Regions from separate parts of the Homo sapiens genome. Here region 2 is linked to region 1. Evidence: fine-mapped expression QTL. A gene starts in region 1. The other region holds a variant in brackets. All regions are shown on one strand. Distances are from middle to middle.

What was found. PIP is the estimated chance that this variant, and not a neighbour inherited with it, causes the effect. A credible set is the group of variants that fine-mapping cannot tell apart.
Region 2: its variant is the best candidate, but not a certain one, in a credible set for the expression of PNMA3 in whole blood (TOPMed, PIP 0.67).

What each region holds. Positions count from the first base shown.
Region 1 is chrX:153,053,389-153,058,716 of GRCh38, forward strand. It overlaps PNMA3 (PNMA family member 3), which reads left to right and starts at 3,082. Exons shown (of 2, transcript NM_013364.6): 1 at 3,082-3,250; 2 at 3,562-5,328. The coding sequence starts at 3,668. The coding sequence ends at 5,059.
Region 2 is chrX:153,011,036-153,016,409 of GRCh38, forward strand. No RefSeq gene overlaps it. Among named protein-coding and RNA genes, the nearest start is that of PNMA5, 20 kb to the left of the region's middle. The variant G/C (reference allele first, on the strand shown) is at 2,704.

The sequences.
Region 1 (5,328 bases):
CTCAACTCATATCTCAATGCAACCACATGAGAGATCCCATGAGTGAACTGCCCAGCTAAACCTTCTCTCAATTTCTCACTTACAAAATTGTGAGCAGAATAAAATGGTTGTTTTAAGCCAGTATGTTTTGGGTAGCTGGTTGTGCAGGAATAGTAACTTAATGGGAAGAAATATCCAAAGTAAATAAATAACTCCTATGAAAGAATTAAAAAAGAGAAGCACCCCAGTTGAGAATTGAGACAAAAATAGGAATTTCAATCAAGAGGAATAAAAAATGCCCCCCCAACCAAGGTATTAAATCTAATTCATAATCATAGAAATTCTACATAAAAGCATAATAACAATTGACATTCCTCAGGATTAACAACATTTAAGTCACACAATATGAAATGTTAGTGATGATATGGAGCTTGATGGAAACATAAATTTGTACAGCAACCCAGAAGACAATTTGGCAATGTCTCTGAATACTAAAGATAGTCTTTGATTCAGCAATGCCATGGCTAGGTACATAACTTAGAGGAACTCTCCAAGAATATTTAAAGCAGCATTGTTTCTGATAGTAAAAATGGGAAACAACTTAAATATCTGTCAATGGGAAAATTGATAAATTTTGGTACACACACACACACAATGGAATACTATACAGAAGTGAAAATTGAGGAATAAAATTTGCTTATATCAAAATGGTGATTCTCACAAACAATAATTAGTTAATACAGTGATGACTATGAATAGTATGATATCATTTCTGCCAAGTGTAAAAGAGACAAAGACAATTTTTTAGGGATATAGTCATTTGCAGAAAAAGCACGAAGAAATGCACATGGAGGACAAGAGTGGGAGACAACAGGGAAGGAATCTGCAGGCGCTTACCCTCACTGGCAGTGTTTTATGTCTTCATCCAGTTACTACATTCAGGAGTACTGGATGTACTTTTTAAGTACGTTTTGTATGTTAAATATTGCAGAATGTATTTTATAAAGTATTTAATTACCAGAAACTCTTTAAAAAATTCCCAGGCCTGTTTCAGACTCAGCAGATCAGATTGCAGAGGTGGGGCCCATGAATCTGCCCCTTTTGTGACCCCGATAGTCACTACTGGTCTAAGCCAGGGCAAGGCCACCCCGGTGGAGGTTGCTTCCTTCATGCTGTATTATGTTTTTCACTTTACAAGTAATAATGTTTATCCATCAGTTCCCCAACTTTGGTGCTGCTGTGTTATCTACCATGCAAGGAGATGGGGAAGCAAAAGTAATTAAGACATTTCCACTGGTTTCAAGGGCAAAGGTTAACTCCAATATAAAGGAGTTCTAAAACTTTTCAAATTGGACATATTCACATCTATTGTCTTGATACCAGTGTTTCCAAATCCTTTTTTCCCAATGCCCAGAACATCCACAGATCACTGCGTCTGTCTGGGAACTTCACAGGCTTCTTTCCGGAGACATTCCAGACACGCCCCTCTGCCTTGGCATGAATACTTGGCATCTCCCCTTGACATCTCAAGCTTTGTCATTTACTCACTGTGTGACCTTGGGCCAGTAGTGTCCCTTCTCTGAACCTCTGTTTCCACCCCTGCAAGTTGGGCAGATGAAGGTTCAGTTTGAAGCTGGTTGAGCCCTTGGAGTGACAAAGCAAGGGACTGTGAATGGACAAAAATGAGAGAAATAAATTCTAATAGGCATGAAGCAACCAGGGGAGAAATAGTCCCAATTCTACCCAAAGACTGATGGGCACTAATTTAGAATCCAGTCTCAATTCTACCTTCAATACGGTGTGTGACCTTGAAAATGTCTCTTAATCTCTCTGAGCCTCATGAGTCAAATCAGGATAATGTTAATACCTGCTTCAGAGTTCTGGTGAGGAGCAAATGAAATAACTCCTGTAAAGATGTTTCAGGAATTCTGTCTGACCAGGAAAAAGCCCTTGGGGCCATTTCTTCTTGGTCCCTGACAAGTGCCAGGCTGACGAGCAGAACTCAGGGTGGGGCAGGAAGTCAGTGGACAGTTTTGTGCCCCACTCACTGCAAGGTGGCCTCCCAGACTTGGCTGGATGGGTGAACCTGGCCTGAAAATCAACCACAAGCCCCTTTTCGTTGTGTTTGGAGAGGAGCTGAAGCTGTGTGAATAGGAGTTGAGCATGCGGCTGGCAGAGCAGGCAGGACCCACAGAACACCTGGGCCCACTGCCTGAGGGACAGTCACTCCCTTCTTCATTTGGCTGCTGCCCTGGGATCAAACGGATACAATAGAACCCACGGCGCACGGCTGCCAAGGAAGGGCAGGCCCAAGGGATTGGGCTCCAAGTCCTGGAAGTGGTTTCCCAAGTCACTAGATTTGCAGCGCACAAAACCGGAAAGGTCCCGGTAAACCTGTCCACTGGCACCTGGGCAGCGAAGCGCTTTGGCCGGAGGGCCTCAGGTCCCAGCAGCGGGATGGACAGCGGGGAGATGGCTGACCCTCCTTGGGGTGGTGTGCGTGACCTGCATGAGTGCCTGGGGCATCTCCTGCACGGAATGGCACCCGCACCAGGTGCCCCTGGCCTCGCCAGCCAGAGGACCAGTCCTGGACGGGGAGGGGGAGGACAAGAGCAGGTGAACAGGCCCCAGAACCCGGCTCCCTGACCCTGGCCATAATGCAGAGCTGCCTGGCGCACCTCAGACCACTCCCTGGCCCTCTGGTGGGCACGCCGGGGTGCAGACCCCTCGCCCCGCTGGCACCTCCGTGGCACGTGCGGGAGGGGCAGGAGCCGGGACCAGGAACCGCTGTGGTGAGAGCCAAAGGCACGGGGACTGGCCGCCACAGACCTTTGGCCACCGCAGTGGGGATGGGGGTGGGCGGGCGCTTGTGTGCCCGGGGGCCCGGGGGCCCCCGTGGCGGGGGGGCTAGGGGAGAGGAGCAGGTGACGTCACCCGGGGACCTGGGGCCCCCAGGGGCGGCGGCGAGAGCCCGACCTCGTGACCCGTCCGCGCCAATGGCCCTGCGGTCTCCCGGACGACGCGGAGGGGTCCGCGCTGCACCGCCGCCGCGCCCCCGCCCCGTGTCCGCACTGCAGAGAGCCGCGGCGAGCAGGCGCCGGCGCACTGGCCCACGTGCTGCGCGAGCGAGGGAGAGCCACAGTCTGAGCGAACGTCCGCGCTGGGAGCCAGGGGTGCCCGACCCCCGTCCGCCGCCGCCGCCGCCGCCGCGCATAGCCCCCGGAGAGCCCTCTGGGGACCCCGACCAGAAGGGACCTTGCCCTGGGAGAAGGTAACAGACCCACCTGGGGAGGGAGACGCTGGGCCCCGGGAGACTCCGCCGCCCCTCGCCTGTCCGCCCTATCAGAACTGAAGCAGCCTGCAGGGCAGGGGTCCAGGGTCCTGGGGCAGCGCGGGGAGGGGGCTGAGGCCCGCAGAGACCCCACGGGGGGTGGGGGTGGGGGGCTGGGCAGGGGCGGGGCCTGGCTGCAGAGGCGCCGCCCGGGGAGGAGGGCGGCTGGGGGTGGGGGTGGGGGTGGGCGTGGATGTGGGCGTGCGGAGAGGTGGGCATTAACCTCGCTCTCGCCCTGCTCGCATTCACAGGCTGTGGAGACCTGGGCCTTCTGCGATCACCCTAGGAGTTGATCCAGATATGTGCCTCACGCCCTGATCACTCCCCCCAAATTAGTATCCGCAGAGATTCGAGGACATGCCGTTGACCTTGTTACAGGACTGGTGTCGGGGGGAACACCTGAACACCCGGAGGTGCATGCTCATCCTGGGGATCCCCGAGGACTGTGGCGAGGATGAGTTTGAGGAGACACTCCAGGAGGCTTGCAGGCACCTGGGCAGATACAGGGTGATTGGCAGGATGTTTAGGAGGGAGGAGAACGCCCAGGCGATTCTACTGGAGCTGGCACAAGATATCGACTATGCTTTGCTCCCAAGGGAAATACCAGGAAAGGGGGGGCCCTGGGAAGTGATTGTAAAACCCCGTAACTCAGATGGGGAATTTCTCAACAGACTGAACCGCTTCTTAGAGGAGGAGAGGCGGACCGTGTCAGATATGAACCGAGTCCTCGGGTCGGACACCAATTGTTCGGCTCCAAGAGTGACTATATCACCAGAGTTCTGGACCTGGGCCCAGACTCTGGGGGCAGCAGTGCAGCCTCTGCTAGAACAAATGTTGTACCGAGAACTAAGAGTGTTTTCTGGGAACACCATATCCATCCCAGGTGCACTGGCCTTTGATGCCTGGCTTGAGCACACCACTGAGATGCTACAGATGTGGCAGGTGCCCGAGGGGGAAAAGAGGCGGAGGCTGATGGAATGCTTACGGGGCCCTGCTCTCCAGGTGGTCAGTGGGCTCCGGGCCAGCAATGCTTCCATAACTGTGGAGGAGTGCCTGGCTGCCTTGCAGCAGGTGTTCGGACCTGTGGAGAGCCATAAAATTGCCCAGGTGAAGTTGTGTAAAGCCTATCAGGAGGCAGGAGAGAAAGTATCTAGCTTTGTGTTACGTTTGGAACCCCTGCTCCAAAGAGCTGTAGAAAACAATGTGGTATCACGTAGAAACGTGAATCAGACTCGCCTGAAACGAGTCTTAAGTGGGGCCACCCTTCCTGACAAACTCCGAGATAAGCTTAAGCTGATGAAACAGCGAAGGAAGCCTCCTGGTTTCCTGGCCCTGGTGAAGCTCCTGCGTGAGGAGGAGGAATGGGAGGCCACTTTAGGTCCAGATAGGGAGAGTCTGGAGGGGCTGGAAGTAGCCCCAAGGCCACCTGCCAGGATCACTGGGGTTGGGGCAGTACCTCTCCCTGCCTCTGGCAACAGTTTTGATGCGAGGCCTTCCCAGGGCTACCGGCGCCGGAGGGGCAGAGGCCAACACCGAAGGGGTGGTGTGGCAAGGGCTGGCTCTCGAGGCTCAAGAAAACGGAAACGCCACACATTCTGCTATAGCTGTGGGGAAGACGGCCACATCAGGGTACAGTGCATCAACCCCTCCAACCTGCTCTTGGTAAAGCAGAAGAAACAGGCTGCAGTTGAGTCGGGAAACGGGAACTGGGCTTGGGACAAGAGCCATCCCAAGTCCAAGGCCAAGTAGGCTCGGGAGAACAGGGCAACATTTCCTACCACAGGCCAAGGAGACAAAAGAGATATTGGAAGGAGGGGAAAGAGAAGCCCAGACAAACAGCAGATGAGTTGAGTGGGGCAGAGGGACAGGGCAGCCAGACCAAGGCCAAGCCTTCTCACCCTTGGCCAGCTGGAAGGGACTTCAGCAACCAAGACCACCTGGCAACAGGCTCAGTGGGGGTCAGGTCCAGGTCCCCGAAGAGGTGCTGGAGAGGAAAGCAGGGAGCCACTGCATCCAGC
Region 2 (5,374 bases), 42 kb before region 1:
ATGAACTGGACAATTGTTGGAACCAAGTTGATATGGGGTTGCTAGCCCATCCCAATATGTGCCCAGAATTAGAATACAGATCCAGATTTTTACATCACCCATCCCTCTTCTTTCTTCTGAATAGCAGTCAGAGGTCACTGGTTTGTTCACAGGAATAAGCAGGGTTAGTCTAAATTGAAGAAAAAAGTCCCAGAACAACTGATGAGACTAGAATCTATTAACATGTGTACCACAGTGTTCGAAAGAGTTTTTCTATCTCCAGTCTCCCATTTTTATTAAAAACAAATCATGGTAAGACCAATTTACTTTCTTATACTTGGCCTGATCATTCATATAAAGTGCAGCAAGAATAATTATTTTTAAATTAGCTTTGATGGAACTCTGTTCCATCGAAAGAATCTCAGATAAGACTTTTTTTCCATTTTTTTTTGACAGAGTCTCGCTCTGTCACCCAGGCTGGAGTGCAGTGGCATGATCTTGGCTCACTGCAACCTCCCCTCCCGGGTTCAAGCAATTCTCCGCCTCAGCCTCCCAAGTAGCTGGGATTACAGGTGCCTGCCACCACACCCAGCTAATTTTTTGTATTTTTAGTAGAGATGGGGTTTCACCATCTTGGCCAGGCAGGTCTTGAACTCCTGACCCCGTGATCTACCCGCCTCCGCCTCTGCCTCCAAAAGTGCTGGGATTATAGGCGTGAGCCCTGAAGACTTTTTTTTTTTTTAAAGCCAAGCCCAGCTGTGGGTTTATACTCTCAAATACTTACGAGTTGGGTAAATTCCTCTTCTCTTGAGGTCCTAAGATAACTGGGGGCACCTGGGCCTGTGAGAAAGTGACATGCTTTACTTACCACGGGTCAGGAACCCTGTACAGGGACTGTATAGACAACCTATGAGGCCAGTTTTCCCAAGGGGCTTTTATTGGCTCTATAAGTCAAGTTTTTTTCCTTAAAGGAAAGCACCCTATTCTCGTCAAAGCCTTGGTAAAATAACCAGTTTCCCCATATGCTCCAAATTGTGTTCATAGGTGTATACTTTACTTAATTGTTAAAAGCTTTAAATAGCTCAAAAGTTTCCTTGACTCTGGAAAACAAAACAAAGGATCAGCAACATTTTAAGCAAACAGCCAAGATTACTTCAAACTTCTATTAGCGCAATACATGCAGTTAGCTCCTGTCCTGTTTGATATTCATGAACATTTCAGCTGTCCATGAGTCCTGAAAGTTTTTCCTCTATCTGAATGTCACACTCTCCAAAGTTATCAGAAAACCTGCATTTAATAACACTTGTTAGGGTTCTATAGGTGATTATAAAACCACCTTCTGAAGAGTATTAAAACAAGATAACAATTGTCTGTGGATGACAAAATTTTAGGACAGCCACTATTAAAGCCACAATGGACAAAAAAATTTTGATTACCTCTGTGGTATACAACAATTTTACATAGCAATTATAACTATTGATAACACACACTAAGTTATATCAGAATTATAGGAGCTTCCATAATTTTGGAATACATGCCAATAACATATTTATACAAACACAGCCCAAAGAAGGCCAAACACCATTTCATATTTGACAATGCTTCCTGTATGACTTTTATACCAAATAAGCCAAAAGTCACTTTTGGACTTTAGGTGACCTAATATCTAAAAGATTAATTAGGTCAGAAAAAGACATATTTTATAATTTGATTTTGGGAAGCTTGTCAAATATCAAAGGTTTAAAACACTAGATATCACAAAATAGAATCCCAGGTGACCATAAGTCATTCATTTTGCCAAAATAATAACTTAAAAAATTTTTAAAAGGCAAAACCCCTTACTCATGAAGAGGGAAGACCTAGCTTTCCAAACAATGTCTCTTTTCTTTCCCCTCTTTTCCTGTAGTTTATTTAAAAGGCAAACAAAAATCTTTCATTATTTTTTAATAAAACATGAAAATCCTGTTCAAGAGAGAAAGCCACATTTCACCCTTTCCATTAATGCACTATTGATGTTAAACCCAATTCTTAATAAAACCTTATACACAAATCTATCCAATTTTAAAGTCTCATCATAAAGTAAGATTCTTATAAACCCTTGAAAAATTTTTGTTAAAGAGCAGATGAGTGCTTTATGAAAAGCCTGTTGTGCTTTTATTCCAATGTTCAATTTACAGAAAAACTGAATACCCTTTAATGTTAGCCAATATGTTCACACACAGAATTTCTTTTACAAGATTAATTTTTCACAAACCTTCCACAACTTGCTCAAATCTTCAGCTTTTTCCTACCTAACTTAAAACAATCCTTTAACCTTCTAAAAAAAATCCACATTCTCATGCCTTCTTTTAATCTTTTACCAAAAACACATTTCACTTTCCTTACACACCTTGCTTGTAAAACTGTTTTTATTTCCCCAAAATTACTAAAGTAATGTGAACTAAAAGGCATTATGCTTTTTATTTTTCTGATAAAATATTTAAGCACTATTTTTAAGCCAATTAATCAAAGCTCTTTCATAAACATCACACACACAACACATATAAATACACAGACAGAAGAATAACCAGTAGTTGTTAAGATTTTTCATTTGCCAGTTTCTTAAGTTTCTTTTAAAAGATGCAGTTTGTAGGGCCTATTAAGCAGGCACAGCTGAAAGGCAAAAACAGATTCCCCAAAATTAAGGTCCCATTTTTATACCAGATCCTGGATCCCAAAAAGAGG[G/C]AATTAGCCCATCTCCCATGGGACCCTTATCTCTCAGTGGGGGAATATCTCCATACCTTCCAGGTGGCCAGGAGCATGCTTTTCTAATCCAAACATGCAAAGAGCCACATATTGCCTCATGACTGCCATTAGCCATCCATAAAAGTATATTTCCTACCTTGTTATTACACAGCAAAGCTCTCTTATAATGTGAAGTAATTTCTGATACCTCAAAAAGTAAAAAACGTCAGATAATGCAATGCAAAACAGAACAGAACCTTAGATTTGGAAAGGGATCTATCTGCTTTCAATTCCTTGGGTTTTACAAAGAAAACAGAGGAGGTTTTTTCCCAAAACAGGGTCTGTGGCACCTCCTCTGTTTTTCCTCAAGAAGTCCAGGCTATTAGAGCTTGAATATCCGCTTTTAATTAAGCTGACTTTTAACCATAATGCTCTTTTTAAAAAGTTCTTTTAAATTTCTTATTACCCAACTTTAGCCAGGCCAAATGACCAATATTTCTGGCTCAGAGAAAGGAAAATTCAAGACAGTTCTTGGAGGAGAAGAGAATTAAAAAATGGTAAATCTTACCCAGATATCAATCAGAAAGGACTCATTCCCTAAGCCAGGAATTGAATCCGGGCAGCCATTATAATACGGCAAAACCTTAGCTGCCGAGCTATAGCACTGGGCAGTTTCCACTCCTCTTCTCAGAAGGAGCCTAGGACAGCCAATTTTGAGCTTGCAAAAGTTTTTAACTGCTCGAGATAATGTTTAGGGCTAACTGATATGAACCCCAAAATTCCTGTTCCCTGGATGGCAGAGACCGAGAGAAGGTACTGCCACGTGTTACAAAGTCAAGCTCTCAAGGACATTTTTCAACATGTAGTCTCGGCATAAGCTGAAAGCATTCCCCTTGAGAATTGCAATGAGACAAGAATGCCCTCTCCCACCACTGCTATTCAACATAGCACTGGAAGTCCTCGCCAGAGCAATCAGGCAAGAGAAGTAAATAAAAGCATCCAAATAGGAAGAGAGGAAGTCAAACTATCTCTCTTCGCAAATGATATAATTTTAAACCAAGGAAACTCCGTAGTCTCTGCCCAAAGGCTCCTAGATCTGACAAACTACTTCAGCAAAGTTTCAGGATACAATAATCAGTAGTATTTCTAGACATCAATAACATCCAAGCTGAAAGCCCAGTGAAGAATGCAATCCCATTCACAATTGCCACAAAATGAAGAAAATGCCTATAGGGATACAGCTAACCAGGGAGGTGAAAGATCTCTACAAGGAAAATTACAAAACATTGCTCAAAGATATCAGAGATGACACAAACAAATGGAAAGACATTCCATCCTCATGAATGGGAAGAATCAATATCATTAAAATGACCATACTGCCCAAAGCAATTTGCAGATTCAATGCTATTACTATCAAACTACTAATGTCATTTTTCTCAGAATTAGAAAAAAAGCAAAACGAACAAAGCCAGAGGTATCACACTACCCGACTTCAAACTCTACTACATTTACAAAACCATATGGTACTGATACAAAACAGGCACTTAGACGAATGGAACAGGATAGGGATCCCAGAAATAAAGTGGCACACTTACAACCATCTCATCTTCAACAAAGTTGAGAAAAACAGCAATGAGGAAAGGAACCCCTATTCAGTAAATCATGCAGGAATAATTGGCTAGCCATATGCAGAAGACTGAAACAGGATCCATTTCTTTCACCATATACAAAAACCAACTCAAGAGGAATTAAAACTTAAATGTAAGACTTAAGCTATAAAAATTGTAGAATAAAATCTGGGAAATAACATTCTAGACACAGGCATTACCAGAATCTCTGGGATACATTTAAAGCAGTGTGTAGAGGGAAATTTATAGCACTAAATGCCCACAAGAGAAAGCAGGAAAGATCTAAAATTGACACCCTAACATTCACAATTAAAAGAACTGGAGAAGCAAGAGCAAACACATTCAAAAGCTAGCAGAAGGCAAGAAATAACTAAGATCAGAGCAGAACTGAAGGAAATAGAGACACAAAAAACCCTTCAAAAAATCAATGAATCCAGGAGCTGGTTTTTTGAAAAGATCAACGAAATTGATAGACTGCTAGCAAGACTAATAAAGAAGAAAAGAAAGAAGAATCAAATAGACGCAATAAAAAATGATAAAGGAGATATCACTACCCATCCCACAGAAATACAAACTACCATCAGAGAATACTATAAACACCTCTACGCAAATAAACTAGAAAATCTAGAAGAAATGGATAAATTCCTGGACACATACACCCACCCAAGACTAAACCAGGAGGAAGTTGAATCCCTGAATAGACCAATAACAGACTCTGAAATTGAGGCAATAATTAATAGCCTACCAACCAGAAAAAGTCCAGGACCAGACGGATTCACAGCCGAATTCTACCAGAGGTACAAGCAGGAACTGGTACCATTCCTTCAGAAAATATTCCAATCAATAGAAAAAGAGGGAATCCTCCCTAACTCATTTTATGAGGCCAGCATCATCCTGATACCAAAGCCTGGCAGAGACACAACAAAAAAAGAGAATTTTAGACCAATATCCCTGATGAACATCGATGTAAAAATTCTCAATAAAATACTGGCAAACAGAATCCAGCAGCAAATCAAAAAGCTTATCCACCACGATCAAGTGGG